3 separate regions of the Homo sapiens genome follow, and all the other regions are linked to region 1. Evidence: fine-mapped expression QTL. A gene starts in region 1. Each other region holds a variant in brackets. All regions are shown on one strand. Distances are from middle to middle.

Region 1 (10,542 bases):
CCTGGATTTTCCAGATGGGTCTAATGTCAACATAGAGAGTCTTCTAGCTGCAGAGACCAGAGGAGTGGAGCATGAGAAGGGCTGGACTGGTGTTACTGGCTTTGAAGATGGAGCAAGGAGGCCAGTAGCCAAGGAACGCAGAACCCTCTAGAAACTGAAAAGGCGAGGAAACAGATTCTCCCCTGAAGACTCCAGAGAGAACAAAGCCCTGCAGATGCCTTGATTTTAGACTTCTGACCCTGGGATGTTCTCACCTCCCAGAACTGTCTGACAATCCATTTGTGCCGTTGTGGCATTTTGTTGCAGCAGTGACAGAAAACTCGTCTAAGTGGCTCTAAGAAGTTTGGAAAGTGGATACTCAACCCTGTAAAATAGAACAGCCAGGACAGATGGTGGGAGAGGGGGCAAGGACTCAGGGACAGGGGCGTGCTCGAGTGTCCGTGCTACAAAGGCTGCAGCACCCACCGAGGTTGCATTCCTGGGTGGAGAAAGGGTGGCTGCAGAAGAGTCTCCATTTACCAGAGCAAGAAAGTTGCACTGGGGAGGGGGCAGAATCACTGAGAAGCTCAGCGGGATGATGGTTGGAGCTGCTGTCACAGGACTGGGTGCCCTGAGAACAATGCGGCTGGTGGGATCCCCAGATAAGACAGACCAGGTGGTGCCAGCTAATCGTCGGGAGCAAGGTGAGCTCAGGTCCTAACGAGCAGCAAAGTCAAAGAAGGAGCCAGCGTGTCCTGACCAACAGAAAGTGGAGGAGATGGACAACAGGACTGGGCATCCCTGGAGGAAAGGCAGAGGCATCTCTCACTCTGGTGCACTTGACACCATCATAGGGCATGAAGGGGAACCATCCCAAGGGCAGCCTGACAGGAGACGTCATGACACCCGGCCCAGTTTCTGGACCTAAGCCAGGTTTTAGATCCAGAACAAAATTAATTTGCAAATTATCATATTTTTATAGAGTATCTTGAGATTTCTAGGTATAGAATCATATTATCCTCCAATAAAGATAGTTTTGCCTCTTTGTTTCCATAGTTATACTGCTTCTTTTATCTTCTTGTCTTGGTTCATTAGGTAGAATTGCCCCCAAAATGGTCAATAATAGTTGCAACAGTGAGCATTCCTGTGTTGTTCCTGATTTGAACGGGTGCGGATTTATAATGTGGTTTAAGGTAGTCTTGACCACATTTAGGTAGTTTTATTTTACATAGAGGTTTTTTTTTTTTTTATCAGGAGTGGATATTCAATGATAGGAAGTGCATTTTGATATTCCTTGATACGAAAAGGTGAGTTTGCCTCCTTTATTTGTTGATGTAGCATATCATTGATAGATTTCCTAAAGCAAAGCTATTCTCTCATTTGTAGACTAAAGTCTACCCATTCATGTTTTCTTACTTTCTTAATACATTGGGTTGTGTTCAGTGTGCCAATATTTTATTTGAAAGTGTTCTGCATCCATATTTGTATATGTAATTTCCTATTTCTTTCTTTCTCCCGCAATTTTGGTAAGATTTTGGTATTAATGTAATGTTGGCTTTTAAAAGTGAATTTTGGAGTTTTCCACATTTTCCGTAGATTGGAATTTCTTCAATAAAGAGATGGTTAATTTTATGTGTCAACTTGGCTGGGCCAAGGTGCCAGGTATGTGGTCAAACATTATTCTGGATGTTTCTGTGGGGGTATTTTTGGACAAGGTTAACATTTAAATGGTGAACTTTGAGTAAAGCAGATCCTCCATAATGTGGATGAGTGTCTTAGTCGGTTTTCTGTTGCTAAAACTGAATACTAGAGACTGGGTAATCTATAAAGGAAAGACGTTTATTTCTCATGGTGCTCGAGGCTGGGAAGTCCAAGGTTGAGGTGCTGCATCTGGTGAGGGCCTTCTTGCTGGTGGAAACTCCCTGCAGAGTCCCAAGGTGGTGCAGGGCATCCATGGTGGGGAGGCTGAGTGTGCCGGCTCATCTCTCTTCCTCTTGTTATAAAGCCATCAGTCCCAGTCCTGGGGCAACCCATTAATCCATGAGACCACTAATCCATGAAAAGAATTCATCTATTCATAAGGACAGGACCAAATCACCTACTAAAGGCCCCACTGTCACATTGGGGATTAAGTTTCTACATGAATTTCAGAAGAGACAAACATTCAAACTATAGCAGTGACCTCATCCAACCAGTTGAAGGCCTGAATAGAACCAAAGACTGACCCCACCTCCCAATCCCCCTCCCCCCACCAGTAAGAGGGAGTTCTGCAGCCACGACATTGAACCACAACATTGACTTTTCCTGGGTCTCCAGCCTGCTGGCCCACCCTGCAGATTCGAGACTTACCAGTCTCCAAAATCACATGAGCCAGTTCTTTAAAATAAATCTCTCTCTTTCTCTCTTTCTCCATCTTATTGGTTCTGTTTCTCTGGAGAACCCTGACTAATACAAACAAGATAAGTCTTTGATTTTTGAAGGTAAGTGGAACTAATCACAGACATGCCAGAGTCTCGCACCTTTGACCTTTGAAAATGGCAGATATTTAATCATCTTTCCAGCCTAGTCTGCGGTTTCCAGTGCTGGCGGTTCCCTGTCAGTTGTCATGGTCTCCTTCATGTTGGCCAGAGTCTGGAAGTGTAACACCCCCAGATGTGTTCAAATTGGTCCAACTGCTGGATAATGAGTGGATGGAACTTCCACTCTTGCCCAAGTTAGGGGAGGGGGTGAATTTCCTGAGTGAGCTCCCTTTGGGGAGAATTGGGGATACTCCAAGAGTGGTAAAAACCCTGAGTGGATTCTCCAAGAGAAGAGTGGCCGTTGCTGACCTCGTGGCTGGCCTTCAAGGCCCGACTTTAAAGTGACTGCAAAATGAAATGCAATCCACAGAAGAGAAGAAGTTGCAAATGGTGGCAAGCGTAAGAAGATATGCTCAGCCTCATGATGCCAAAGCAAGTCCAAGTTCACACAGCAATGAGCGCATTCTGTGGAAACTGGCAGGATTTGCCTACAACTGCTGTTTCTCAGCCAGCGAGGGGAGGGGTCTACAACCCAGATGTGAGGGTAAATTTGAACAACATTTTAATTTTTTTATTTTTATTTTTATTTTTTTTGAGACCAAGTCTCGCTCTGTCGCCCAAGCTGGAGTGTAGTGGCGTGATCTCGGCTCACTGCAACCTCTGCCTCCCAGGTTCAAGCGATTCTCATGTCTCGCCCTCCCGAGTAGCTGGGACTACAGGCACCCGCCACCACACCCGGCTGATTTTTTTGTATTTTTAGTAGAGACGGGGTTTCACCATGTTAGCCAGGATGGTCTCGATCTCCTGACCTCGTGATCCACCCGCCTCGCCCTCCCAAAGTGCTGAGATTACAGGCGTGAGCCACCGCGCCCGGCTGAACAACATTTTTAAAGCCGGTTTGGCAATTTCTGTCAACATTTTAAATGTGCATACCCCATGACCCAGCAATTCCTCTTCTAAGAATTTCTCTTATAAAAATGCCTGTGCAAGAACGCAAACATATGTGTACAAGAATGTTCACATGACAGCATTTGAGACAGCAAAAACTGGAGACACAAAACATCCACCTTAAGAGGAATAGTTATGCAGATTGTGGAATCATCATTATAATGGAGTCTTATGCAGTTATTAAAAAGAACAAAATAGGTGTATGTGTAGGCAGGGAATAATCTCCTTGACATTTTGTTGAATAAAAGAATCAGCCTTCAGAAAACTATGTATGGTATGAAGCATTTTTGTTAATTCTGTGTGTGTGCTTATGTGCTTAGCAAAATGTCTAGAAAAATAGATGCCAGGCTATTGAAGTGGTCACCCCTGGTAGTGTGATGGGGTAGGGGAGGGGGATGAGGAGAAGGCTTTCTATTTTATTGTATACATATCTCTATTACTTGACTTAAGAAATGAGCATATATTACTTAGTCAATAAAACAAAAATATTTTTTAATGCTTGCAACAAAAATGCTGATGGAATTTTAAACCAGGAGGAGCAATGTTAAGGCTTCCTCACTCTGGGAATTGGACTAAAGGTGACTTAGTCTTAAAGGCAACTAGAAAAGGCATTAATTCTATTAATTAATGCCTCAGCGATTTCCATCTCAGCAAAGATGTCTTAATGAGGCGCTCGGGACACCCATTATTTATCTTACAAATGCAGCTCCAGGGTCCTGCCCATGTCAGGCAGTGTAACACACGTCCCCGCGGAGGGCTGGCGCTGCAGAAGCTCCCGGTCCACCCCCTCCTGCCCACACCTGGCCTCACCCTCCCCATCTCTTCGAGGATGACCTCTGTCCCAGTCCCTTGGACCCCGACTCCTCCACGATCTGGCCCCTCCCCTCATACATTGCATTTCGGGACCCCCGCAAAGGAATCACTTCAGCCTGGACTGCAAACCGCACTCCTACACCTCACTATGAGCACCTTGGGGGTGTCCTCCAACACCCCCCGCCCCGCCCTCTCTCTCCTGGTCTCCTTTCGTTCGAGCTGATGAGGAACTGACGACCCAGAGTCGGCCTGTGTGAGGCCCGTACAGGTGGCTCCCGAAGTCTTTAGCGGCACAGGGTCGGTCCCTCCAGGCCGACCTGGTAAAATTCCCGCATCTCCCGCAGGCCGCCCTTCTCTGGCCCCTGGACCCCGGGCTCCTGGCCCGCGCGCACCAGGAGCTGTCCGCGGTGCTGACCGCAGGCGCTTCCCGCGCTCGGCCGATGCGCACGCGTCCCGGGAGGGGCGCGCGGGACCTGCCGGCGCCGCCACTGCGCAGCCTCCCGCGGCCTCCCCGCCCGGCGCAGCCTCCCGCGGCCTTCCCGCCGCCGCTCTCGCCCGGGCCGGCCATGGCGCTCAACAATTTCCTTTTCGCTCAGTGCGCCTGCTACTTCTTGGCCTTCCTGTTCAGCTTCGTGGTGGTGGTCCCGCTGTCCGAGAACGGCCACGACTTCCGCGGCCGCTGCCTGCTCTTCACCGAGGGCATGTGGCTGAGCGCCAACCTCACGGTGCAGGAGCGCGAGCGCTTCACGGTGCAGGAGTGGGGCCCGCCGGCCGCCTGCCGCTTCAGCCTGCTCGCCAGCCTCCTGTCTCTGCTGCTGGCCGCCGCGCACGCCTGGCGCACGCTCTTCTTCCTCTGCAAGGGACACGAGGGGTAAGTGGGGGCCGCTCCCGGCGCGGCGCCCCTTCCATGCCCCCAGCGCCCCCAGACCCACCTCCCCGGGGAGGCGCGCGAGTCCCTCCGTCTCTCAGGCAGCTCCGAGGCCCGCAAATGTCAACAATCCGCCCTCACCCCCTCCACTCAGACCGCCCTTTGTCTACACACACATCCAGGGACCATGACGACCACCGGTCCTGCGTACAAGGCCAGTGCCTCCCCTCCCCAGCTGCGCATCACCTCCCGCTTCCGGGCATCTGCTCCCTTGGGTTGCAGATGTTGCACTGTCATCACCCAGCAGGCCTGGACCTTCCTGGGCGGGCTCAGCCGGGCCACACTCGCCAGGACCGGCGACAACTCCCAGCCCGGTCTAGGGCTTGCACTGAGCTCTCCAGGTCCCAGTGACAAGGCGAACTGGGGAGCCCCACCCGGCACCATCGCCCCGGGAAAGGGACGGCAGATGGCTGTCTGGAGGGGAGCCACCCAGGCCCACCTCGAGCTCAGGCCTTGGATGGGGAGCTGGAGAGAGACTGCAGGGCGAGGGCTGTGCCTTGTGGGCTCAGCGCCTTCCTCCTCCTGGCCTGCATTTTCCTCTTTCTCTTTCCTGCTCCGGCTAGATACTGGAGCCCATACAACCTGGTTCACCTGGGGTGCGGTGACACCCTTAGCCAGTGGCACCCTGGGGGCCCTCTGGGGGCCCACCCACTCCCTCTGCAGGTGCTCTCTGTGAACCCTCCCACTCCCTCTGTGAGCCCACCCACTCCCTCTGTGAACCCACCCTCTCCCTCTGTGGGTGCCCTCTGTGAGCCCATCTACCACCTCTGTGAATCCACCCACCCCCTCTGTGAACCCACCCACCCCCTCTGTGAGCCCACCCACCCCCTCTGTGAGCCCACCCACTCCCTCTGTGAACCCACCCACTCCCTCTGTGGGTGCCCTCTGTGGGCCCTCCCACTCCCCTGGCTGAGGCCTGCTGTGCCCAGGAGCAGCCCGAGATCCTGTAGAGGTTCCGGGAGAGCACTCATGAAACCCAGGCTCCTCCCAAACTCTGCCCTCACCCCCATCCTTTGTTGTAGGTTTTCACTTCCTGCACGCAGGTGGGAGATGAGAAGGGCTCAGAGGGGTGTGGGCGGCAGGAGTGGGGAAGCCCTCCTGTTGCCCCCGCTGTGAGCCCACCGCTTGGTTTTGGCTGAGAGAGGGGCCAGAGAGGGGAAGAAGAGGGGCTTCAGGGAGAAGGGAGGGAGCCAGGGCTATGCTGAGTGGGGCTGCAAACTCTGGAGGAGGAATGAGAATCCCAGCGCCTGTGGGTAGGAGCGCCCTGGGGCTGCTGCAGCACAGTTGCACCAACTGGACTGAAACCCACTTGTCCCACCACCCTCTGCCGCTGTCCTCACAGGGCGCCTTTGCTCTGCTCTGTCCTCCCTCTTTTTACAGGGACACCAGTCACTGGATTCAGGGCCCACTCTAAACTCAGGGAGATATCCTGAGATCCAGAGCTTAATTACACCTGCAAAGATGCTATTTCCAAACAAAGTCACAGTCACGGGTACCAGGGGTGGGACTTGGGCATATCTTTCGGGGGACACCATTCAACCCACGACACTAAGGTTCTGGATGGGGGTCAGTAGAAAGCTGGCTGTCAGCCTGGGAGGACCCAGGTACTGTGGGGCCATGGGCCCAAATTGTGTGGCTGGAGCCCTGCTCAAGGTGGGGTCAGGCCGGGCGCAGGGTGGTGTCCTGCCCATTTGCAGCCGTCCTCCTTCCCTCAGCCCACTCCAGGGCTGGTGTCCCAAGAAGAGGCTTGAGACGTCATCTGCACCCATGTTGCCAAACCCAAGAGTTGCCCAGTCCATGCTGTGCATGCAGGGCAGGCAGGTGGAAGCCTCCCTGAATGAGACAGGTGTGAAGAGGGAGTGGGACAGCCAGCGAGTAGGGTCAGCCTCCCAACGCTTGAGGTCCCTTTAGTCTGGGAAGCTGAGGGTGGAGGGTGCAGGCCAGGTGGGGCCACAGTTGGTTCATCGCTCACGCACTTCTTCACCTCCTGGGTGTCCCTCAGGGTGCCTGTGGTCCAGCTGGGGCTGACAGAGGGTGGCTCTCTAGATAGGACCCAGCTATGTGGTCAGAGTGATGGGAGATTTTATAGGGGGTTCCACCAGAAGCTGGGGGACAGGGAGAGGGGAGAAAAGAGCCCCAGAGCTTGCAAGACAGGAGTCCAGGTCGCACAGGGTATGGTCTATTTCGCACACACTGGGCGGCAGGCCCAGGGATGCCGTAACAGCAGCTCTGCCTCTTGCCATCTCACGGAAGGTGACTGTCTGTCAGCCGTGGCAAACTGCCAGCACCATCTCCTTCCAAAGGCAGAAAACAGATTCCTGGGGAGTCTGCAGGCCTTCCCAGCACTCTTTGTGGTGTTCCATCCTCCCAAGGGGTGGAGCCGGCTGGGATGCAGGCCAGCTGTGTGGCCTCTGCTGCAGCCCTGCTGACCGGCCCATATGGGATTTAGGAAGCCTTAGACGGCCTGGTATGCTCAGGCCTGTGGGGGTTAGGGTGAGGGTTAGGGTTGTCGAGGGGGGCTACATTGTGGAGGCTCACCATGGCCTTGACCCCACTGGAGGTCAGGTCCGGGCAGCTCCTGCTGTCAGGAAGGGGCCTGTGGCGGAGCATTTCAGGTTCAGCTCCTTTGCTTCAGTTCAGGGGTTCACCAATCCTCCCACCACTGACCTCCGCCCAGCCTGCTCTTTTCCAGGGACATCTGGTGCCTGTGTCCTTCTTGACCATCAGGAATTAGTGGCTCAGTTCACGTGGTCATGTGGCCACCTGTCCCCCACCTCATGCACTGCACAGTCCATTGGCAGACGGCTTGTGGGGTGACATCTGTCAAACGTGTCAGCACTCCATTGAGTTCTGGTTGTAGGCGAAGGTTAACGCTCTCAAGAGCCATCTCAGGCCATGGGTCCCCCCCCAGGGGACCCCACCCTAGGGGACCCACAGCTGGGTGAAGCCAAGGCAGACATGCACCTTATTCATCTCTGTGTCCTTAGGGCTGAGCACAGGGGATGGTGCGTAGGAGTCCCCAGATAATGTTTGTTGAATGACTGACAGAAAGATGCCTGGGTCCTGAGGCCTGCTGCCTTGTGGTCACTCACCTGGCCCCGATACCTGTGCAGACTCAGTTATCTGGCCAACAGGTCCACCCTTCAGACTTGCCATGTCAGGAAGTTCTGGACCCCTGGGAAGATGGGGTCTGCAGGGTCCAGCGACAGAGCAGCCAATTCCAACTCAATTGTTGGTCCAGCTGCATAGACTAGGTGAGCAAGTGCCAGGTAGGTAAAGGGGACTCAGGACCAGCCACGGAGCTGAGACGGGCCTTTACAGGGAGCTCATGTGGTGGACAAGGGCTCTCAGGGCCATCGACGGCCACTGGACGTCCAGCCCAGGGAGGAGCCCACTGACCCCATCAGACTCTGGCTGCTAGAGGTCTGGGCCTGTTTAGGACAGCACATGCTCTAACCCTCTAAAGGGGACTCCACCTCCAGGGGCCACCCGGCTGCCCTCCTGCCAGTGTGAGGGCAAGGCCTGTGTGAGGTCTGTTTGAGGGGCACATGGCACGTCCAGAGCTTGTGGAGCAGAGGCCATGTCTCAGGTGCCAGCTTCCTCTTCCTATGGGGGTGTCTTTCATGCAGAGTCTGGGCCCTGAGAGCTCGTGCCCAGAAGTGTGAAAATTAGTCTGGGGGTAGCTTTTTGCAGAGGAGTGTCATCTTGATGCTCCATTATTGGCTGCTGAGTGAATGAGTGAATGAATGAATGAATGAATGAATGAGTAAATGAATGAATGAATGAATGAATGAATGGATGAATGAATGGAATGGCACCTGTGCTTCAGAGAGGCTTGCCATTTCGGGGCAGAAGGGTTTGCTGAGGCAGCCGTGGGCCTGGGGCAGCTGTGCTGAGGGAGGATTGAGCACGTGGGCTGGCAGCAGTTTGTGGTTGGCGGGCCGGAGGGATGCTGCGTTAAACTCATCTGCCTGCCCGTGCCGGCGCTGAGCCTTCACATTGCTGGGCTTTCCAGGACAGCGGTCACCATGGAGATGGCACATCCTGGCAGGGCACCCTGAGCGGCAGTGAAGAGAGACAGGGTTAACCCTGCATGTGCCGGGCTCCTGTTCCTGACCACTGTCCTGGCCTGGCCTTGGTGAGGGAGGGGCTGGGTGGCCCTGTGACCTCTGGGGAGCTGGATCCGGGGATGCTCTGGACACATCCAATTCTTCAACGACCTGGACAGCCTGGGCAGGATCCCTGGAAACCGACCAGAAAGGAATGAGAGGAACAGACCGAGGCTGTCAGCTGGCAGCGGCCCCAGCCTGGGGTCCCTTCCCTATCTCATGGGGAACTCCTCGATCTGGTCATGGGAGAAGACTCCAAAATCGGGCCATTTCATAGGGGTGAGGCTGGATGTTTGAAGTCTCCAGATAATTGGCTTTTCTGTCTGTTGGAGGTTGTGTTGTGGCCCATGCTCAGTGGTGGGAAGGGGACAGTGGGTCGCCTGGGCCCAGAGCCTCTGCCGTATCTCAGGTGCACTGGGCCAGGTATTTGCAGGCACCAGGGTCTTTCAGGGTCTGAAAGACCCTGCTCTTCAGAGTGCGTCTCCTTCTCCATTCTCTCTCTGGAGGCTGAAAGGTGTGGACCATGGCAGTGGCCCCTTCCTTGCCTCTGGCTGTGGAGCTGACCCTGGCCGTGCCTCGCCACCACCTTCTCCTTGGCTGGGGCGGAGCAGCTGGTCCAAGACTGCAGAGGTGGGGCGGGCTTACTGCGTTCCGCTCTGTGACTATAGGCCCCTAGCCCCTCATTTGCACCCCCAGGCCAGATGGATTTTGGGGTTCAGAACTGTGTCCTCAGGGTCCCAGCAGCAGCAGATGGCTCACCCAAGGAAAGGTCATTGAAGGAGGGCTGGTTGACAAGAGATGAAGTGGTGGGGTTCATGGGGTCAGTGGAGGTGGTGCTGTCCCCATCCCTGGCTAACGGGACCTGGATGGGTGGGTCACCTGGAGAGGAGCAGTGACTTTCAGTGGAGGGACCTGGTAGCAAATTCCCACCTTGCTCTCCCGCCCTCCCACCCCATTGCCCAAACCCAGCCGGAAGCCAGAGGGCACGGGGCCATTGCCATGGTCCACACCTTTCAGCCTCCAGACAGAGAATGGAGAAGGAGACGCACTCTGAAGAGCAGGCGGGAGACACTGGCACATGGTGATTCAGGCTTGGGCAGGGCGGATGGAGCCAGTCCCATGTGTGACAGCTCTGAGACTCACAGCACACTGGGCTGGAGAGGGACCGAGAATGGCCCCACACCCATCCTGGCGAACTTTTGCCGCTGCTCTTTCTGTCTTCAGAGAGCTTTGGATGTGGCGCTGT
Region 2 (10,542 bases), 30 kb after region 1:
GCTCTGGCATCTTCATACCCAAGCAGGAAGTGAGCCCCCTCTCCCTGGGGCTGGAACTCACCTGGTTCCCTCCTGGCTCCCCGAGGGACAGAAACAGGCTCTTCGGGATCTCCCTGTGGGGCACAGTCCAGTGAGGTCCTGGACCCTCTTGGCCGGCAGCACCCCTCCCAGGCCCTTGAGAGTTGAGCCTCGGGCAGAACTGCAGGGCACACAGGTGAACGGGCCAGGCCCGCCCAGGCCTCCTTCCCGAGGGCTCTGATCTGGAGGCGCCACCGCCCGCTGGCAGGGCCGGGTCTGTTGTGGCCTTCGTCCCGTCTCCAGCCCTCTCTGCTGGATCGCAAAGCTGGGCCAGCTGGCAGCGGCCAGGCTATAATTACCTCTCCCCTTTGGCAGAAATAGCAGTGAACCCGAGGACAGGCCGCTGGCCCCGGAGCAGAAGGGGGTGGCTGTTTCCCAGGCCCCCGGTGGACAACAGACCATGATTTCAGATAAGACCAGAGTTTGCTGCTGTTCCTACCCCTCCCGGCCCAAATGTGCCCCCTCCCAGGTCAATTCCAGAGCTGTGCAGCTCTTGGAAAAACCTATGGATTGGAATTCGGGGCAGAGTGGGAGAGGGAGGGCACTGTGGGGCTGCGGGAGGTGAGGTGATCACAGAGTCCAGCCTCCAATAAGACCCTGACCCAGCATGGGGCCTCCGTGGTGGCGAGAGTGCCCGCCCTGCCCCAGGCCCCTGTGCCCCTGTGAGTCCTGACCTGGGGTTGCCAGAGGGAGAGGCAAAGAATGGGTCCCAAGCTGCCGTTTTGGGGCACACTGGCCGACCCTCGATATTGCCCTGGCAGGAAGGGGCAATGTATGGGTCAGTGAGCGATGGCAGGGGTGAGGGATCAGCCTTTCTCAGGGTCTGTCCTGGGTGGGCGTCCAACTGCCCTGCCTGGCGCTGCTGAGTCTGCCCCTCATTTGTAGGTGAAAGTGCAGCTCAGAGAGTTGAGGCACCCTGTCCAGAGTCACACAGCCCGGAGGTGGTAGCCTGGCTCAGGCTTGGTGGCCCGTCCTCGCCAGCCCCCCCGTCTGCTGGTGCATGTAAAGGCAGGTCTGAAAGAGGCTGGTGAGGGCATCACTGGCGCAGGGCACCACCACATGTGGGCAGACCCCTGCCTGGTTTGTGGGGCTTTGACCTGTTTCAGGGGACTGCTGGAGGAGGTGTGGAGAGACCCGTGTTTCTCCATTAGGAATGGGGGTGCATCTCCCTTGGGTAAAGCTACAGGACCCCTGGGAGCCCAGGGTGTGCCAGGCTGGGGGACAGTGTGCACAGAGGGTGACTGCTCAGGGCCAGCCGTGGGGCTGCATGGACACAGAGTCCTGGAACCCACCGTCAGAGCATGAGCAACGCAGCCACTGGGATGGGGTTCAGCAGACCGGCCCTCCCCTCACTGCCGTCTTCAGTACAGGGCATGGGGGAGCAAACTTTTCTCTTACAGGGCCATATGGCACACAGTGCGCTCTGTGTCTACACAAACGGGGTGGGCCAGATTGGCAGGAGGGCCTTGGCTCGCTGACGCTTGTTCCAGGGAGAGCACTGAGGAAGGCTGGGTGGTCCTGCTGGCAGTCTGGCTTCCTGGGAAGAGTGAGGTCCTGTAGCCAGACAAGACCCTCTCCCGCCTGTGCCCAATCTGGGCGCTTATCCTTGGCTTCCCAGGGCTGGAGCTGCTCCTCCCAGATTTCAGAGGTCAGGCTGCACTGCCCGAGGTCGGGGGGCTCCGGGACAACTCCTTCCTGACCCTTCTCATTGACAGAGGGGAGGGAACGGTCAGCCCACAGACCTTGGGTGCCGCCCCCTCTCTGTGCTCCCTGGAAAGGCGATGCGGGCTGACCCTGTGGACATTCGCTCTGGGTAATTTATTAGTGAGCTGATGGCTCGGCTCAGGGCTCAGGTCCCAGCGGGGTCATATTTCCGGCCGTATCTGATAGGGCTCGGCTGCACCCTCCTCGCCTCCGTCCATTGCGCCTCACTCCAGCCTGGGCTCTGCAGGGCAAGATAAGGCTGGCCCAGGGGAGTGCTGAGCTGCCGGGTCCGCGGAGGGTCCCCAGTGCCTGTGCCAGGCAGTGCCAGGGAAGAGCCCAGTTGTGTCAGGCCTGCCTGCAGCCGGCAGGTGGGCACATGTGCCCACGGGCAGTGGTGCCAATGACGTGGTGCCCAGGTTTGGGCCCAGCTCTGTCACTGTTCAGCCAGGTGACCTCCGCCACACCCTCATCTCTCCCCGGGAGCTGGGAATGATCGGATGCCCCACCCTCCCCAGATCTTTGTGGTGCACCCACCCTGAGCAGTGCCCCGGGAACACAGCAACTAAGGCCAGCTGTCATTCAGCGGGAGGGCGGAGCATGTCCAGTGGCTGGGCACTCCTGAGCGCTGGGAAAGTCCAGCGAGCTGGCTGGGCTGGGCTGTTTCCTTGGGGTGGTCCTGGAAGGTGGCCGGGGTGGAGTAGGGCGGCACGTGGGAGTGGAGGCTGCAGGGGCTGGAGATTGTGGCTACTCTGGTCATGGCCACGTGGTGCTGGCCTAGACTCCCAGCTCTCCCTGGACCATGGTCTGGCTGGAGTGCGGAGAGCCCTGGGCCTCAGCATGGCCTCATACATGGCTCCAGGCAGGGTCGGGGGTGGGGCTGGAGGGTGTGGAGGCCCTAGGCTGACCTGGGCCAGAGAAGAAAGGGCCGGTGGGTGGGGGAGATGGGGGTGGGGTCCACAGCTGGTTGAAGCAGAAGGACCCCAGGCACAAGAGAGGCCAGCGTTGGCCCAGGGGGTGGGAGTTGGCCGTGGCCCTCTTGCGCAGAGGCCTGGAGGCTGGCCCTTCCCCTGTCTGGCATACAGCCCGGGGGGAAATTCGTGCAGGCTGGCCGACTGCAGCACCAGGGCTTGTGGTGGAAATGGGTCCAAAGGTTCTCCAGGCGTCTCCGGGGCTCAGGGCTGCACCCCTGTCAGCTGAGGCTGTCCTGAGCCCAGCTCCCTCTGTGGTAGTGAAAACGCCCAGCTGAGGCTGTCCTGAGCCCAGCTCTCTCTGCTGCAGTGGGAATGCCCAGCTGAGGCTGTCCTGAGCCCAGCTCCCTCTGTGGCAGTGAAAACACCCAGCTGAGGCTGTCCTGAGCCCAGCTCTCTCTGCTGTAGTGGGAACACCCAGCTGAGGCTGTCCTGAGCCCAGCTCCCTCTGTAGCAGGAGGAACGCCGGGCTGAGGCTGTCCTGATCCCAGCTCCCTCTGCCGTAGGGGGAACGCCCAGCTGAGGCTGTCTTGAGCCCAGCTCCCTCTGCTGTCGTGGGAACGCCCAGCTAAGGCCGTCCTGAGCCCAGCTCCCTCTGGGGCAGTGAAAATGCAGCTGAGGCTGTCCTGATCCCAGCTCCCTCTGCTACAGTGGGAATGCATCTTTGTAGCTCTCGTCTCTGCAGTGGGTCGTCAGCTGCTTCATGACCACAGGAAACCCCCTGAGAGGGCTTGGTTGAGGGTCTCCAGCTGGGTGGGGACGGTGGCTGATGGGGTCATGAGAGGCCCCATAAACCATGACCACGGTGAGAAGGCCCTGGAGAGGACTACGGGAGAGGGCAGGCAGGGGTGGCGGTGGTGGGTGAGTCCAGGGCCGGTGGAGGCCGCATGAGCAGGTCTTTGCCACTGGCACACTCAGAGCCAGTGCTAGGTCAGGAGGGACAAGGAGTGAAGTCCTCACAGGACTTGCCACGTGGTGGTCACAGGTGGGCTTGGCCCAGGCACCCTGGGGGTTGGTGGGAGTGAAGCCTGAGGGTGGGGTCCAGGAGAAGAGGAGAGGAAATGAGGGAAATGAGGGAGGAGTGTGGGTTTGGGGTTAGAGGGGCTGACGCATGCTCTGGGTGAGAGCCGGAACCTGGGCTGGGGCTCCACAGGCACAGGCTGCTCTGCACAGGGGCTGGTGGGGGGACTTCCCACCAGGCAGAGCTGTCCATGGGAGGAACAGCCGACAGTAAGGTAGTGAGTTCCCCATCACTGGAGGCAAGCAAAGGAGGATTTTTGCCTTTGGGGACTCTTCAGGGCCCCATAGACCACGGGTGGGGAGGGAGGTGGGAGGACGGGGGAGCAGACTCTGGGCATATGGGGGTGACCTGTGACGCTCTGGCCCCTGTGTCTGCTCACTGGCCCCTGACATACGGCTGCCTGGAGAGATGCTGCTCTTCCGGCTTGCAGATACAGCTAGAGTCCTGCCCCAGGTCACGGCCCGGAGTGGGAGGTCCAGGCCCCTACCATGGAGCCTGCAGCTTGTCATTCTCAGACTGAGGCAGGGCCCTTTGACAGGGCCATGTATGGTCACCCCGTCGCCAAGTCAGAGCCCTTATTAAGAATACAGGACGCATGGGCACTGCCCCCAGCCCTGAGTGTGGTGGGGGCCCTGGGTGATGACCACACTGGTTTCCACGAGTGAGAACCATAGGCTGCTGGGGCCCCCCCAGCTCCCATCAGCTGAGATAATGGGGGCCTCTGGGCCCCGCGGAACACTAACCAAAGCGGCCCCTTTCCTCCTCCTCTATTATTCATGACCTCCAAGAGGCTGTAAAAGTCCTTTTTTCTCTACAGGAGCCATCGATACGATGACAAATTTTATCTATGAAGTTGGTCCCTCCCTGAAAGCCAGTTGGCTGTCGGGGCTGTACATAAGCCATAACCGAGCCGGGGCCCCCCGAGCTGCCTGCCACAGCTGTTTTTCCAGCAGCATCTTAGGGGCTGGCTGGAGGGGCCGGGAGATCCTTCCACCACCCCGCCTGACCTGCTGAAGGTTCTGGGCTCTGAGGCGAGGCCGTGTGGGGGTCTGTCTGGGCTTCAGTGGGGCGACTGCAGGCGTGGGCCCCGGGGGCAGCCGGTCAGCCCAGGTTCCCACTGTGGGCGCCATCCCTGGTCTCCGGGCCTGAGGACCCACCGCAGGGACCTGGCTGCGGCCGGCCGGGGCCGAGCATTCACACGTCACACACAGCCTCATTCTCACACCAGAAGCGTGCATTCTCTGTGGCGCAGGCAAGCCACACATCTGTGGACATGTGCGCCGAACTGTGAGGGCCACGCTGTCCGTGTGCAAAAGTGCTACGTGCTGTAAAATAAAAATAAAACCCTAAGGCCCCAACCGACTGAACAGGCTCCTCTTGGCCAAAGGGACTCCAGAGAAACCGGAACAACTGAGTTCCCAGTCATGATGGGACAGGAGGGCAGACGTGCCTCGCTCTCCCCCTTCCCTGCGGGAGTTCAGGCAGGGCTGACCAGTAGTGACGTTAACCTAGTGATCAGAGGACTGTGACCCTAAGACTCGAATTATAAACAGGACCGAAGGCCGCCAGCCCAGGGTCAAGTCATGCACCCCACACGCCACTGTGACCTGGTGTATCGGTTAAAAGACTTCTTAATCTTCAC[C/T]GAAAACATTCCTTTCTGATGACTGCACATTTATAGACAAAGCTTTACTTCTTTAACTAATTGCAAATGAAATAATCTCTGGCCCCGCTGACGACCTGTCAGCCCCCTGCTTCAAGACACCCTGCCTTTCTGGGCTGAACCGATGTAGAAGCTCCTTGAACTATGACTGCCTGCAATTCCGTCACACTAAGGTGGGTGGGAAGCAGAGCTGGTGTCTGGCTGCCTCAGGACCCCCCACTCAGGGCTCCCTGGGTGTGTGCACTTTTTCCTGGGCCGCGGTCACTCATATTGGCTCAGAAGAAAGCTCCGTGTTCTACGGAGTTGGGTCTTTCCATTAACCATGCTCTCCAAGCGCTAGATGGGCAGAATGCATACTTGTGTGCAACGGCTTAGCTCCTCACAGGGCTTAGCTCCTCTTCCCTCCCCACCGCCTCCTGAGCCCCAGGCCTGGCCTCATTGGCAGATAAGGACAGGGGCTCTGTAGGGGGAAGCTCCTTGCCGGGCTGTGAGGCGGCAGCTTACGGAGTGGGCTCAGATCCAGGGGACTGGGTGCCGCCCTTGGTCATGACTCCCCTGCACACAGCTGCTGGGACATGGGGCACAGGCACAGGACACTGGGAAGAGCTTGGCACCAGAACCGGGGGAGGGAGGGCCCCACCCACACCCTGTCCTGGGCCTGCCACCTTGGGCAGTCAGTGCCTGGCCGAGAGCTACTACCTCCTGCCCCAGGGGAATCCTCTCCTTGCAGGGCCGTGGCAGGTTCTGAGGGGCTACTGTGTGCCTCCTTGTGAAAGCGGCAAGGTTGGGCTGGCCGGGCAGGCACACAGTTCTGGTTCACGCGGGTGCCCACCTGGCAGTGGCTGAGTGGCCCAGAGCCTGGGTGCCCAAAGTTCCCTCAGCCCAGGTGTGCCCGTCACTGGTGCTGCCCTCCCTGTTGCCGCCTGGAGCCCTCCGGCCCACTGGGGAGGGCAGCTTCTCCTGATCTTTCCACCGTGTCAGGAGCAGCTGGCCTGAAAGGGCAGAAGTCAGTGTCCAGGGCCCACAGAAACTATGTGCTGGGCAGGAGACTCTCCTGATCTTTTGAGAGCTGTGGGTACGGGCTCTGAGCTGGCAGTGATATCAGGGGACCCAGAACCCCGCTGTGGGTAGAGTAAGGGCTCCCGGAGACCTGGAGGCAAGCCCGCCCTGCAGTGACCCTGGGACCCTCAGCCTCTCGTGCCTAAGGGAAGGGGCTGCCTGTACTCTGCAGTTGGCAGAGCCTGCCCATTGGTTCCTTGACCTAATGATTATGAGCCATTTTGGCAGGAAAAAAACCCAAACGAACAAGTGGAAGCTTCTAAGACCCTGGCCAAGAGAGTCATTCCACACATCCTGAGCATCTGCAGAAATTAGGACCATCCCCAAAGACTCAAAAGATACAGGGATGGTCAGTCCCACTGTCCCCACTGTTCCCACTCTGTTCACCCATATGGTCCACAAAAACCAGCAGCATCATGGCCGATGGTGATGGATGAACCCAACCCAACGCAGAGTCAGCCCACATGGAAAATGCGCCGCCGGATGCGATACCTCGACTGAACCGAGTCACCACATCCTCTGGCCCTGGGTGTGTGCGGTGTGTCTAGCAAGTGTGTCCTTCTCAACCACCTCAGTAGAGAGGGGCCCACCCAGCTGCCTGTGAGAGACAGCAGTGCTCCAGCCACTGGCACTTTCTTGCTACTCTTGCAATCCAGTGCTCTGGGACACTCCTGGTCTGCGGAAAATGATGCTGATCAGCTACATTCGTGACGTCATGCTTAGTACGTCACATGGCAGGTGGTCCAGACCTCCAGGAACCCATGCAACAATGGTAGCCATGATTAATGGACAATGGAGGAAAAACTCTAGCCCCGGTCCCCAGGCATTTGGCTGGGGAAGTCAGTGCAACATAACATGACTGGCTGTGGCACTGGTGACCCCTCGGGTGGCCCTGAGGGCAGGGATGAGCTGTGAGCACCGCCTTGGGTGTCACTGTGGCTGAGGGAAGGATGGATGCAGGCTCCTGGGCCATGGCAGCTGGCCTGGATGACCAGGTAGGAGCCTGTGGGAAGCATAGGCTCGAGGACCAGGAGGTATGGGGGGAGGGCTGTGGGTGGGTGTGCAGGGTGGGCACACAGCTTGTGGCTCTCTGGTCCTGTGCCTGCTGGAGAGCATTGAGGGACAGGCTGGCTGGGGGAGGGGCTGCTGCAAGACACCCTGGGCAGCAGCCAAGGCCCTGTCTTGGGACACAGAGGGAAGGGATGGGTGAGACTCCTCTGCGGGGCAGTGCCTGCCTCCCCCTTGCCCCGTTCTGGGGCACATGCACCAGCAGCTCTGAGTGGAGGAAGCTGGGCAGGGCCAAGGAGGCTTGGTGGGGCCCACTCAGCCCAGGGCTTCGGGGACTCAGGAGCGGCCCCTCCCTCGTTCCCAGGGCCTGACCTTGCTCAGAGCCCGCAGGAGGCCAGCCGGGGTGGCAGGAGGGCTCCCAGAGGTGGGGCAGCCAGGCAGGGACCTGCTGACCGTGTCCTGTGGCCGGGGGTTGGGATCTTGGGCCTGGACTCCAGGGGCCGCTGCATGGGCCAACAGAGCCTTTCCCTGCCCTTTCCAGAGCCCGAGGGGAGAAGCCTTGTTCCTGAAACTGCCTTTTCCTTGCCACATCCTGTTTCCATTTCTTACGAACGACAAAATCGATTGGATGTGCCAGAAGTGCCATTGCTTGCGATTTAATGCCACCTTCCCTGGGGCTCTCGGGTCTTTCTGCAATCCCACGATGAAGCCAGCCACAAGAAGTTCAGAGAAGGTCACTAAAAGAGGGCCCGAGAAAAACCCTCTGAGGAGCTGGGCCTGAGTAGCCTCTGGCGGCAGCAGTGATGGGCTCACGACGGGGCCTCTCTACCCAGCACTGGGTGGGCACGAGGGGCCAGGCTGGGGTGCCAGGCAGGGGGCATAGGACAGTGGGCACTGGAAAGTCCGGCCAGGCCCATCCCACCACTGCACCGGGGCTGCTGCAGCCTCTGCTGGGGAGGGGCCTGAAGCCAGGGCTGCAGGAGAGGAGTGTGGGGATAAGGAAAAAAAAAAAAAAACCGAGAGAGGGAGGGCTGGGGAGGGCTGGGGAGGGAGGCCAGGGTCAGACTGAGGAGTGGGAGGTGGAGCTTAGCTCCGAGAGGAGCCACCAACCCCGTCCACAGCTTTCCGGTCTCGGATGAGAGCGTGAGGTCTTTGTACAGTCAGAAGCAGGGGGCTACACGCAGCTCAAGTGTGCCACAGAAATTCCGCTGGACCGACGCCTGTCTGTGTTTCATATGCACGCAGTCACGTGCACAACCAGGCACACCGAGTCTCACACGTGTGCACACACACACCTTCTCTCTCTGTCTCACGTCCCCCACGGGGCCCCAGCAAGCTCTGACCCCAAGAGGCTTTGTGTGGCCCCAGGCTTCAGCAGAGGTGGGCAGATGCACACGTGAGCCCCACTCTCCCAGTTCCCCGGCACGCGAGGTGCAAGCAGCCATGGTGTCTCCTCGCTCATAAGGGGAGGACCGCGATGTATGCACGTCCGGGGCCCCCAGAGGCTGAGTGTGGCCAAGTGCTGCCACTGCCTTTGTCACCAGTGCCCAGCGCCTGCCCGTCACTTTGACAAGGCCCAGCCTGTAGAACCCACTGGGGTAAACGCAGGGAGAACGCACTGTTACAAAGCCACTCTGCGACTCCTCCGGGCCTGTGGGGAGAGGGGAGTCTGCAAATAGCCACTTAGGCCAAGAATTGCTCCAGACCCCTGCAGGAGTGCCCCTCATGCTACAGATATTGAACGAGGTATCTGAGTACGCAGGGAGGTTTCTGGGCCCCACATGTGAGCCCTGCGTACACACCCCATAGCTGTGTCATGCCCAGGCAGGTGTGCACACGCGCCTGGCCCACGGGTACCTGTTCTCCTAGCATCTAGGGTACTGTGAGGTTACTCAAGTCTCCCCCTTACCCTCCCACCTCCTTTGCTCTTCTGTCTGGGGGAGAAGGCGTGTGAGTAAGTGGCCGGCGTCAGGCGGGAGCAGCAGGGGCATGTGTGTGCTGCGTGTGTGCTGCGTGTGTGCTGCATGTGTGCCGTGTGTGTGTCATGTGTAAGCTGCAGTGCCTTGCCTGGCACCACACAGGGAAGCCAGGCTCTGGCCTCCAATTTACAAGGCAGTTTGTTGGGACCCCTGAATGTTGGCCATGTACAGTTGTCCAGGTTGCACAATAAGGAACTAATTTAGGTTTACTGGAGGAGGGGTCAGATGTGCCGTGGGGGCGCCTCGATGTGGAGCACCCAGGAGAGATGTTGGAGATCAAAGGGCACAAGCAGGCTCTTGTAGGAGGAACTGTGTCCGACCCTGCTCACCATGTCCGTCGTCTGGCCTCACCTGCCCTGGCTCTGTCCCTCACTTGTGCTCCCAGCCCCCCGCAGCTGTCCCCATTCCCACGTATGGTGCTGCTGCATCCTCGGCATCTCTTCTTCCCACTGGAGTTGGAGCAGACCCACCGTGAGCCGGCACATGTGCCCACCCTGGGGCCTGGAAAACCGTGGAGGGCGGCACCCTCGCCAGCAGGGTTTGCACAGTCGCCTGGGCTTCCCCAGGAGCCCACATGGAGGTCATTCCCGAGACCGCCAGCTCCCTGCTGGGAATCACGTTTGCTTGTGAGGGATGTGTGTGTCCCGGTGGGAGAGCCATCAGGGAGCTGGGGATTAATAACCTGCACCCACTTGCCAGGTGGGAGGCCAGGAGCCCTCTGGGGTCCTGAGTGCTTCATGTTTGGGGCATGCTGCCCATGCCAGCCACAGGGATGCTGCCTTGAGACGGTCGGCGACTTTGTCATGGTGTGTGGTCTGCGGGTGCATGAACACACCCACTCCATAGCAGCCCGAGGAGCTGACGGAGGCTAATTAAGTTCTAGGCTTTATATTACACGAAATGGGGGAATCTTCTATAAAATCACCACTAAACGAAAGCCAAGTGCTGTGTGTGTGCAGAGCCGCCTATAAAGGATTCCCTGCCTGGCAGACACCGGAGAGGCTGAGGCTGTCTGGCAAATGTGGGGAGGGAGTTTATTGCTCACCATATGATAAAATAATGGAG
Region 3 (10,542 bases), 98 kb after region 1:
GGAAATGCCACTGCTCTCTGTCCCCTGTGCTCCGTGACTTGCCCACCTGCCTGGGGTGTGGGTGGGAGGCTGGCCCGGACCCCTGCCTGGAGGCCTCCGTGTCCTCAGCCCCAGCTGCGTGCATTTCTTCATGCGTCCCCTGCACACAGGATGCACCGTACCACGTGCCCGGCTGTGGGCTGCGTGTGTGGTAGGGATGTGCAGGTCCCCGGGTGGCGAGGGGGGTTCTGAGTTCCCGGGAGGACATGGACAGGGAAGGAGATGCAGGAGAGACACACACAGGGCCTGTGGGGATTCCAGGGCCAGAGCTGTCAAGCTCGGCGGCTGGAGCTGAAGATGGGGCGGGCTGTGCGGCGCTGGTGACGGGCACCGTGGCCTGGCTGGGGTGCTCAGGTACCAGCTGCTTCTCCTGGCTGGGTCTGGCTCGGTCTCAGCACGTGGCCAAGCCGGCAGCACAAGCACAGGCCTTGGTCTTGGCTGGGAGCAGGGCTGGCCCTGCCAGGCACCAGATCAGAGCCAGGAGCGCGCTGGCAAGCCCCGCGGGACATATTGTGCATCAGCTACCACGGCAGCCCTTCCCAGACGGGCCTCTGCTCGCCTGGGGAGATGGTGGCAGAATGCGGAGGTGCCCAGCCCTGGCCACTGCCCCACCCCTGCACTCTGACCTGCCAGTCCCAGAAATGTCCTCTCAGAGCCCTGGAGTCAGCGGGCGCTTTCTGGGGAGCTTTGCCTTCTCCCCTCTCCCCATCTGTCCCTGACTATTGGAGTCAGTGCTTGTGTTTGAGCCCCCGAATCAAATAGCTTTGCAATTTGTCAAATTATGCAGAAGAGACAGAGGAGAGGAAAGGGAAGTAGTTTGGTTCTATTATGTGGAAATTAGCTTTGAAACAGAGGCCGTTTGCCTGTTAGAGCAATTTCTCTCCATTTATTTCTAGAGAAAATTGCCTGTGTGGCTCACATCCTCATCTGGTGGGGCTGGCTGTCTCCCAGGCCACTAGGCATGGGGGCTGGAGGCCTGCACCAGCCCTGAGGGCGTCTCCATCCTGGCCAGGGAATGGAAGGGAGACCAGGAGGCTTCATGCTGCTGCCCCTGGCCCTGGGGCAGGAGGGGAGGGGGCAGGCTCCGGCTCACTGCCCAGCCCCCATCTACCTCTGAGACATGTCTTGGTGGCTCTTGGAAGGCCAGGTCCCCAGCTCCCTAGAGGATGGGCCTGGCCAAGCCTCCTGGATGGGGGTGGGAGGCCCTGCCTGAGCCTGACCTTGGCGGGAGAGTGCTGCAGGTGATGCTGGGATGGGTGGGAGGGGACTCCAGGAGGAGGGACCAGCTGAAGGCACCACAAGGCCCTGTGTTTGGGAAAGGGCAGAAGTCAGGCAAGACCTAGAAGTGGCAATCCCAACTGCATTTTCTATCCTTCCAGGTGGAGCTGCCACCTGTCTGCAGATCCCAGCCCGGCCAGCCAGCTCTACTGCAGGGCGCACTGGGGTGTCTCGGGGAGACTGGCAGAGTGATGGCTGCAGGCTGCTGCCCTTCACGGAGCCTCCTGTGGCCACACTCGTGGGGTGCCCGTATCTGCTGCCTGGGGGTCCCTGCACGAGCCCTCTGGGAGGCATGCGGGCTCCAGGGTTCCAGTGGGGAGCTTGTAGTGTGGTGAGGGGGGACCTGCTAGGGCCATGCACCACTGGAGGGCAGCAGCCCCCCACCCCTGCAACCCTGTCTGCTGCTCCGGAGCTCCGAGCAAAGTGTACACCTGGGCATCCTGAAGGAGACTCAAAGCCAGGACGCTCGGGTGGGGTCTGAGTGCAACATCACACTTGGCCGTGGCTGAGGGGAGAGGGCAGCCCTTTTGTGCTATTATCATATTGTTTTGGGGAAATTGCTTTTTATGAAATAAATTTTACATAAAGTGAAATGTGCAGATCTTAAGGGTACAACCTGATGAGTTTTGACAAATACACACACATAACCAACACCCAACCAAGTTGTTTTGAGCTTTATCTGTGTAGTTTATCCATTTTATCTTTGAAGGGTATTCCATTTTATAAATATAAAATCTATTTATGCTTTTTCCTGCCAGTGTACCTTTGGGTAGTTTCCAGTTTTTGACTATTATAAATACAGTTGCTATAAACATTCTTGTGCAAGTATTTTTGGGGTACAAATGTTTCTATTTCCTTTGGATAAATAGCTAGGAGGGCCATAGGACAGGTGGAGGTTTAATTATGTAAGAGATTGCCAAGCAGTTTTCTAAGTGGCAGCACCGTTTTGTACCCTCACCTGCAGTATAGGCGAGTTCCGGCTTCTGCATATCCACACTGACATTTAGTATTGTCAACCCGATGGGCAAAAAACTACTTCCTGGAGATTTTCGTATCTATTTCCTGATGATTAATGATGTTACACATCTTTTCATGTGCTTATCCAGCATTTATGTGTCTTCTTTTATGAAGCATCTTTTAATTGGATTTTTTATTATTGATTTGTAAGAACTCTTTATATATTTTGGATAAGTGGATTGTCTTTTTATTGTTGATTTGTAAGAACTCTCAATATATTCTGGATATAAGATGTATGTGTGTGTGAGTGTGTATATATATGTGTATATGTGTGTGCATATATATATACATATATATTAATAGAGTTAGAGAAAATATATGTGTGTGTATATATACACATATATATACACACACATATATTTTTTTCCCTAATTTTATGAAATACCTTTTTGTTTTTTGACAATGTCTTGATGACCTGAAATTTTAAATGTTGATTAATTTCTGCTTGTTGTTTTTTCTTTATTGGCCAGAGCCTTTTGTGTCCTCTCTAAAGAGTCTTTGTTTACCTCAATGTTGCAGATTTTCTCCTGTGTGTTCTAGGTATTTCCTGGTCCATATTTTAGATTTAGATCTGTGGTTTATCTTAAATTAATTTTCATGTATGGTGTGAGGAAGGGGTTGGGGTTTATTTCCCCCATAAATGTATCCAGTTGCTCCAACATCATTTGTCAAAGAGACTTTCTTTCTTTATTGAATTTCCTTGCAGCCTTTGCTAAAAATCGATGGGAAATGTATTTATGGGTCTAGTTCTTGTCTCTACATTTTCTTCCATTATCTAAGTGTCTATTTCTTCGCCAGTATCTCACTGCCCTGATTACTGGGCTTTGCAGCATCCTGAAATCAGATCGTATTAGTCCAACGGTGCTCTTTATCCAGGATCATGTTTCTTTTCCAGGTCTTTGCACTTGCAAATGCATTTTAGAATCAATCAATCAATTTCCGTCAAAAAGCTCATTGGAATTATTATGAAGATCACATTCGGTCTACTGATCATTTTGGGGTGGCTGAACAACATCCTAGCCATAGAGAGTCTGCCCATCCATGAACTTGGTATACTTCTCCATTCATTCAGCTCTTCTTTAATTTCTCTCAGCAATACTGTTGCAGTTTAGGGGATAGATCTGGACCTGGTGCTGTCAGAGTTAGGGAATGATATGGGCAGAGCATTTGACTGTAATCTGGGAAGCAAGGACTGGTGCCCACCTGCAGGCCTGTGGGGACTCTGGGCAGCAAGGCAGCCTCTCAGCTTCTGCCCAGGCAGCAGCCACAGCTCACTGTGATGCCAGGTATGCACACTTCCAGGGGGCCCATTGTCCTTCCACCCACCTTCTAGTCCACACTCAGGAACGTTCTAAGCCATCCCTGTCGGGTGGGGCAGGAGAGGGGAGAATCCAGACCTCACAGGAGCCCCAAACCCTGATATCTCCAAAGTGCCCTTTTGCCAGCCCTGGTCTCTGCTTTTGTGTCCTGGGTTTGGCTACATGTTGACAAAGATGCTCACTCGGAAAGTTGAGCAAGACCAGCTCTCATCTGTTGTTATGGTTACGAGGCAGGAAAAACAATTTCCTGTGAGTATCTTCTGATCACTCCTGTCGGATGCTGGAGCAGATTAGGCCAGGCACCATGGTGATGGCTTCTCTGGTTCTGTGGGGGACCATGTGACATTCATTTTGACCTCACACATGGGGTTGCAGTCTGCCGGCTCAGTCAGGGGAGATAGACGGATCTCATTAAGAACCATCAGAGGATCACTTTGCTGGTTTTATTGCAGTTGCAAAATTGCCTTTACCTCACTCTCTCCCAAATGCCAGATTACAAACATCACAAGAGATCAAGAAGCCTGGGTGGGCCCAGGAACGCACTGAGTGCACGCCAGTGGGCAGTGACCAATCACCAAACCCAAGGGAGTCCACATGGCGAGCTGTCTCCTTGCTACATGGGGCCTGCCTACTCACAGCTGGGAGCCCCTCCAGCACCAGGAGGCCCAGGTCTCCCCGAAAAGAGAACACACTCTCTGCAGGGGCAACTTCCACCTCCCCACCGACCCAGGCCCCCCAGTTGCAGAGCTGCAGAATGGCAGAATTGGGCCCCCCAGTTACAGAGCTCCCCAGAGCTGCAGAACGGCAGAGGGAGGCAGCAGGGAGACAGACCCATAAGTCTGGTCTTGGAGAAAGGGGTGGCTGCAGCCAGGTGGAGCAGCAGGCTGGGCCATTTCCTGGTCACAGAATCTTCTATCCCAGCCCCATGGCAACCTGGGGGCAATCTCCCCCTCCGCTCTCTCCTGAGGGAGAATCTCCCCCTCTGCTTGTTCTCCAGGCAGGGCCTGGGCTGCCCACGGTGGAGGAGAGGTTCACCCTCAGCCAGCCAAGTCTCTGCCCTTCTCTTCCAGATCCAAGCGCCCAGTGTGGCTTGCAGTCCTTACCTGTCTTCTCCTCTTGCTTTGGATGAAGCTTCAGGGTCCTGCCAGTGAGGAAATGGCCAAACACTGAGAAGGTGACCCCGGCCAGCTGACACCCCACGGTGGCTGCTCTGCGATGGGCAGCTGCTCCAAACCTGGGCCTGGGGCAGGGGGCAGGAGGAAGGGGGTCTGCAATGTGGTGGTTGCCTTGCTGGAAGCTTCTAGGACAAGAGGTCTCCTTAATGGCAGACAAGTGGGGAGAGTGTCTGGAGGTGCCTGGCGCCAAGATGTGGGGTGAGGTCGCCAGGGAGGGGTGCAGGGGAGGGGCTGCACACTGCTCCTTGGGTGGGACAGAGCAGGGACAGGGAACGAGGAGGCTGAACTTGGGGGCCAGGGAGGCCAGAGGAGGCTGGGTGGGGTAAGGGTGCAGGCAGGTAGGGAGTGTGTGTCTGAGAGGAGGGCGGCGTTGCTGGGGGAGCCAACATGCCAGGAGGAGCAGGGAGGCAGGAGAGGAGGAGGGGTGGTAGTAGGTGGGAGACCCCAG[T/G]GGGTTTCTATTTAGGAACTCATTTCCTGCTTTGTGATGTCCTCAGGTTTTAAGTTGCCTGACCCTGCAGGTGGAAAGGCTGACAGTGGCAGGTGGGGGTCCCCAAGCTGCCCCCAGAACCAAAGGTCAGGCAAAGGCTGCAGGTGGACCTCAGCTCTGAGGCTCACCTCCCTCTTGGCCCCTCAGGGTGACACCTTCTAGGAGGTCCCAGCGGGGCAGTCATCCCAAATCCAGGCCTGTTGCTTCCTGCCTCCTTCCCCAGCCTCACTCAGGGGCCAGCCAGCCAAGGTCACCTTGGCTATGATAGGTCAGTGTGGTCCCAGGTGGGGCCCTGACACCTTGTCTGAAAGACATGGAGGAGGAGGGGCCCCAGCCCCAGAGACTCAGCTCTCTGCACCCACAGACTCTCCCCAGCCCCCCAGCCCAGCAGGTCAAGGACCCCAGGCGGGGGCTCTCGGCAGCCCCTGCAGTGAGTCTCCCTCCCACTGTCAGTGTGCAGAGGGTCCCACGTGCTCCGGGACCGCGATTACATTTTCACAAAGAAATTGGAGAAACTACAGCAAACACAGCTCAGCTGTGGCGCTGAAGGGATTCCCTTCCTCTTTCTTCTTTTTGTCCTCTGCGAGTTCAGTTACTCCTGCCCTGGTCATGTGCAGCCCCGAGTCTGGCACTGGAGACGGGTTTGCTGTTTTGAGGGCGGAGGACGTGGCCCAGAAATGGTAGTAGAAGGGGAGCTCTTGATGTGGACAGCTCCCCTGCTGGGTGTCCAGCCTGCCCAGTTGCCCTGCCCGGAGGGAGGAACAGAGAGGAAGATGCCAAGGCTGGCTGGAGCAGGCGCCAGGTGTGCCTGCAGCAGCTCTGGGGGTGGGGAGCAACCATGCGGGGGGTGCAGGTGCCGCAGTCACCTTCCAGGTGGCCCAGTGGCTACCCGTCTTCACTATCCCGGGACGTGCCAGGCCTCCTGGCACTTTCCCCGGTGGTGAAGCAGAACTTCTGAGGCAGCCCTCTGCTATGGCTGCCCCTATTGTGGCCGTCAAGCTCAGCCTGGCTGCAGGCGGGGGCCGGCGTCTCCCGGGTCCTATCTCCTGGGTTGTGTTGTGAATCCGCAGACTGAGGGGCTGTGTGGTGTGGGTGGCGTGTGGTTTGCTGAGGAGCCTTGCTTTGGAGGTCTGGCCTTATTAGAAAACGTTACTTTATTATCTCACATTTCCAGAGGCCAGGAATTCAGAACAAGTCTCATGGCTTTAAAATCTAGATGTCAGCAAGGCTGGTTCCCTCTGGAGGCTCAAAGGGAGAATCTCGTCCCTGTCTCTCCAGGCTTCGGGGGCTCCAGGTGGCCCTGGTGTGGCTGCACCCCTCCATCTCTGCCTCTGTCTGCGCGGTCTCCTCCTCTGCGTTGCCAAATCTGCCCCTGCTTCCTCTTAAAAGGATTCCCGTGATTGCATGCAGGGTCCACCCCATCCAAGAGCCACTCCCTAGCTCCAGTCCTTGACTTAATCACACCGGCAGGGGCCATGTGAAGTCACACATTCACAGGCCCCAGCCACCAGGATGTGAATCTTTGAGATGTCAGCCTATCAGCTATTACACTAGGGTGGCGTGACCAACTCATCCAGTCTGCCTGGGGCCTTCCCGGCATTGGCATTCAAAGTCCCATGCCCTGGGAAACCCCTCAGTCCCAAGCAAAGGGATGGGGAGCCGCCCTCCTCTGTGGCAGCCTCACCTTAGCAGCTCATGTCTCCAGGGCACCTGCAGCACCAGGATGAAGCCTGACTCTCAACAGTCAGTCAGGCAACCCTGGGAGGTAATGCGTGCATGGAGAAGCCTGTGCTGTGCCAGCTGCCGGCCACCCCTCCCAGCTTTCTCAGCCCTTCCTGCTGAATGAGTCTCACTCTCTGTGTGGGGGCCCAGGGGGCCGGTGACACCTAGAGGGTGGCAGGACCCAGGCTGGCACGAGGTCTGAGGCACACCCACCTCCAGCTCAGGGCAGGCTGATAACTGCTCCTCCCTCTCCCCAGCAGGTCTAATACCTTGGCCTCAGCAGAGACCTGTGCCTGCAGTTGCTGACATTTAGCCCCTAAATGAATGAGAAGCTGTGTTATGTGTGTTATGCTGTGGCCTGAGGGCTCTGTGGTGTGGGCGGGGTGTGGTTTGCTGAGGAACCTTGCTTTGGAGGGCTGGCATTACTAGACTCCTCTGGTAGGCTGGGATGGCCTGAGAGGAAAGGGGGCTGTACTGGGTTCTGGGCCCAGCACTGTGGCTCGGTTGTTTTCAGGCGGGCTGGTGTGGACAGATCTCCTCTAGGTGCAGCCCGCTGGCCCATGGACCAACTTGGTAGGAAATTGATGCTTATGCAGCAGTGTGCATGTGTGTCGGCATGGGGGTTGTAAACACGGAGTTCAGAGCTGTTACCTGGGTGCCCAGGCTGCAGGAGGACATGGGTGGGCAGTAGCTGAGGGTGGTGCAGGGATAGACAAGTCTTGTATCAGCCTGCTTGCCACCAGCTGCTAAACGGCCATGCCCCACCACTCCCTGGGCTTCCCTTTCTCTGTCTGCAATGTGAAAGGCTAGCACCACGTGGTTTCTAAGCTCCGTCCAACCTAAAGTCTGTGATGCTGCCAACTCACCACAGTTATATTAAAGTGGTAAAGTGGGTTAGATAGAAATGAGTACTTTTATATTATTTAAGATCCATGGGCAGAGTCTCCTACTACAGCTTCCAGACTCACTCTTCTGAGTTAAGCAACTAGAAAACTGGGCAAAAAAGTATGAAACGACTGTTCTCAGACATTGGAGAGTGAGCGCTGTCTTAGTCCATTTTTGTTGCTATAAAGGAATACCTACTGCTCGGTAATTTATAAGAAAAAGAGCTTTATTGCCTCATGGTTCTGCAGGCTGGACAGAAGCATGGTGCCAGCATCTGCTCAACTTCTGGTGAGGACCTCAGGCTGTGCCACCTTCCCCACTCACAGGGGAAGGTGAAGGGAAGCTGGTGTGTGCAGAGACCACATGGCAAGAGAAGAAGCAAGATGGGGGAGGTGCCAGGCCCTTTTCAACAAGCCCCTCTCATGAGAACTAACAGCAAGAGCTCGCTCCTCCCTGAGGGAGGGCATGATCTATGCATGAGGGGTCCACCTCCACCACCCAGCCACCTTCCATTAGGCCCCACCTCCAACCCTGGGAATCCAATTTCAATATGAGGTTGGGGGGAAAACATTCAAACCACAGCAAGTGCAGAACTGAGACACCCATTCAGAGGGAAACAAATAAAGTGACCCCTCTGAGGCCTGGACTTTCTGTGTGGAGACAATGTCCAGGAGGGCTGCTATGCTGAGGACTGGATTATGGAGTAATGGGCTGTGATGGGGAAGGAAGGCCTTAGTCAAGGTGTGGTGGACCTGCTTCCTTGGTACTGATTTGGAGATTCCTTTAGGATGGCTGGACATTTTTTCAGTTCTCCGTCCTTCCTTAAGGCTGACAGCTCTTTGTCTTCTTATGAGAGGAGGGATCCACACAGAGCCTGGTGGTCTCATTGGATTGAGGAGATAGAGATCAGAATTTTGGGAGGCTGAGATGGCTAGAATTTGCTGGCAGAATACCAGAGAAGAGGGAAATAGGCAGAAAAAGAGTGCCAGAATTCTGCATAGGGGTTCCCATAGGTCTGTGCCTGAATGTCAATTGTCCCACGCAAGGCGTGAAACTTCAAGGGCAATGCTGAAGAAATAACAATTATCAGAGAGCTGCAAGGTGAATGGCTTAGAACCATCTAAGTTTCCACCAGCCAGAATGGAGAGAAGTTATTGAAGACATGGGCATTCACTAGAGACTCAGAAGAGTTTTGCTTTAGTAGTGGGGCTTAACTCACCCAAGAGGAAAGGTGACTCTAGACTCACCCTCAAAAGCATCAAACTTCTCTCCAGGTGACTTAACTGCCTGCCAGAATGGAGCCCAACACTCTTTAAAGGCATGTAAGTGAATTCAGAACTCAACAATGTACAGTATTCAACACAATGTCCAGCATCCAATCAAAAATCACTAGACAAACAAGTAGGAAAGTAGGGCCTATCGACAGGAAAAAATTAGTTATTAATAATAGAGATAGGCCCAGAACTGACAGAGGTGATGGAAAAGGCAAACCAGGATGTTAAAACACTTGTTATAAATATGTTCCATATACTCAAGGACTTAAAGGAAAACATGAACAGAGCGAGGAGAGAAATAGGGGACACAGAAATTCCAAGTGGAATTTCTAGAAGTGGCAAATTGTGCCAATCTCTGAAGTGAAAAGTTCACTGGATGGGACAGTACACTGCAGAAAAACCAGTGAATTCACTTTGGTATTTAAAAGCAGGGGTTGGTAAACTGTGGCCTATGGGCCAAATCCAGCTTGTTGCCCATTTTTATAAATAAAGTTTTACTGGAATGCAGCCACACTCACTTGTTTACGTACTGTCTGTATTAGTCCATTTTCATGCTACTAATAAAGACATACCTGAAACTGGGTAATTTATAAAGAAAAAGAGGTTTAATGGACTCACAGTTCCACATGGCTAGGGAGGCCTCACAATAATGGGGGAAGGTGAAGGAGAAGCAAAGTTCTGTCTTACATGGCAGAAGACAAGAGAGAAAGCATGTGCAGGGGAGCTCCCATTTGTAAAACCATCATATCTTGTGAGACTTACTCACTATCATGAGACCAGCACTGGATAGACCTGCCCTCATGGTTCAATGGCCTCCCACCAGGTCCCTTCCACAACATGTGAGAATTATGGGAGCTAACATTTGAGATGTGGGTGGGGACACAGCCAAACCGTATTGCTGTCTATGACGGCTTTCACGTAACAACATCAGAGTTTAGTAGTTGCAACAGATTGCATGGTGCACCAAGGCTGAAATATTTACTAGCCAGCCTATTGCAGAAAAAGTTTGCTGAGCCCTGGTTTAAAGTATTTACCTTGTGATCCCTTTATACTACAAATTGCAGAGCAAGCCCTTTATCAAAGATAATGTACACATTAATTTTTAGCCAGTTAGGTCAGAATTATTCCAGATCAGTAGAACATGAATTCCCAGGAATGGGCATCATAACCTCAGGTTACAGTTTGAGCATGGTGGAAATTGGAAAGAAAATGCTTGCACAAGGGCAGGTCATTCCTACCCTGCTCTCAACTCCCTCCTCCACAGCCCTGCCTCACCCACTCTGTGTTGCCCTGAGTACCAGGGTCTTTGTTCTGCTCACTTTTAGGAGGTCTCTCTCCTTCTCCCA

Alleles and levels. Positions count from the first base shown, and alleles are read on the strand shown. Sizes are in standard deviations (SD) of each study's normalised expression. Not every link is listed here.
With allele T in place of G in region 3, the expression in cerebellar hemisphere of the gene that starts at base 4,795 in region 1 is higher (small effect, 0.26 SD a copy in GTEx).

The links. PIP is the estimated chance that this variant, and not a neighbour inherited with it, causes the effect. A credible set is the group of variants that fine-mapping cannot tell apart.
Region 2: its variant is the best candidate, but not a certain one, in a credible set for the expression of TMEM179 in stomach (GTEx, PIP 0.68).
Region 3: its variant is the best candidate, but not a certain one, in a credible set for the expression of TMEM179 in cerebellar hemisphere (GTEx, PIP 0.85).

The regions. Positions count from the first base shown.
Region 1 is chr14:104,599,025-104,609,566 of GRCh38, reverse strand. It overlaps TMEM179 (transmembrane protein 179), which reads left to right and starts at 4,795. Exons shown (of 4, transcript NM_001286389.2): 1 at 4,795-5,130. The coding sequence starts at 4,826.
Region 2 is chr14:104,569,523-104,580,064 of GRCh38, reverse strand. C14orf180 (chromosome 14 open reading frame 180) reads right to left here and starts at 301. Exons shown (of 5, transcript NM_001008404.3): 1 at 62-301. RefSeq lists a silencer at 8,427-8,627. The variant C/T (reference allele first, on the strand shown) is at 5,414.
Region 3 is chr14:104,500,990-104,511,531 of GRCh38, reverse strand. No RefSeq gene overlaps it. Among named protein-coding and RNA genes, the nearest start is that of C14orf180, 74 kb to the left of the region's middle. The variant T/G (reference allele first, on the strand shown) is at 5,277.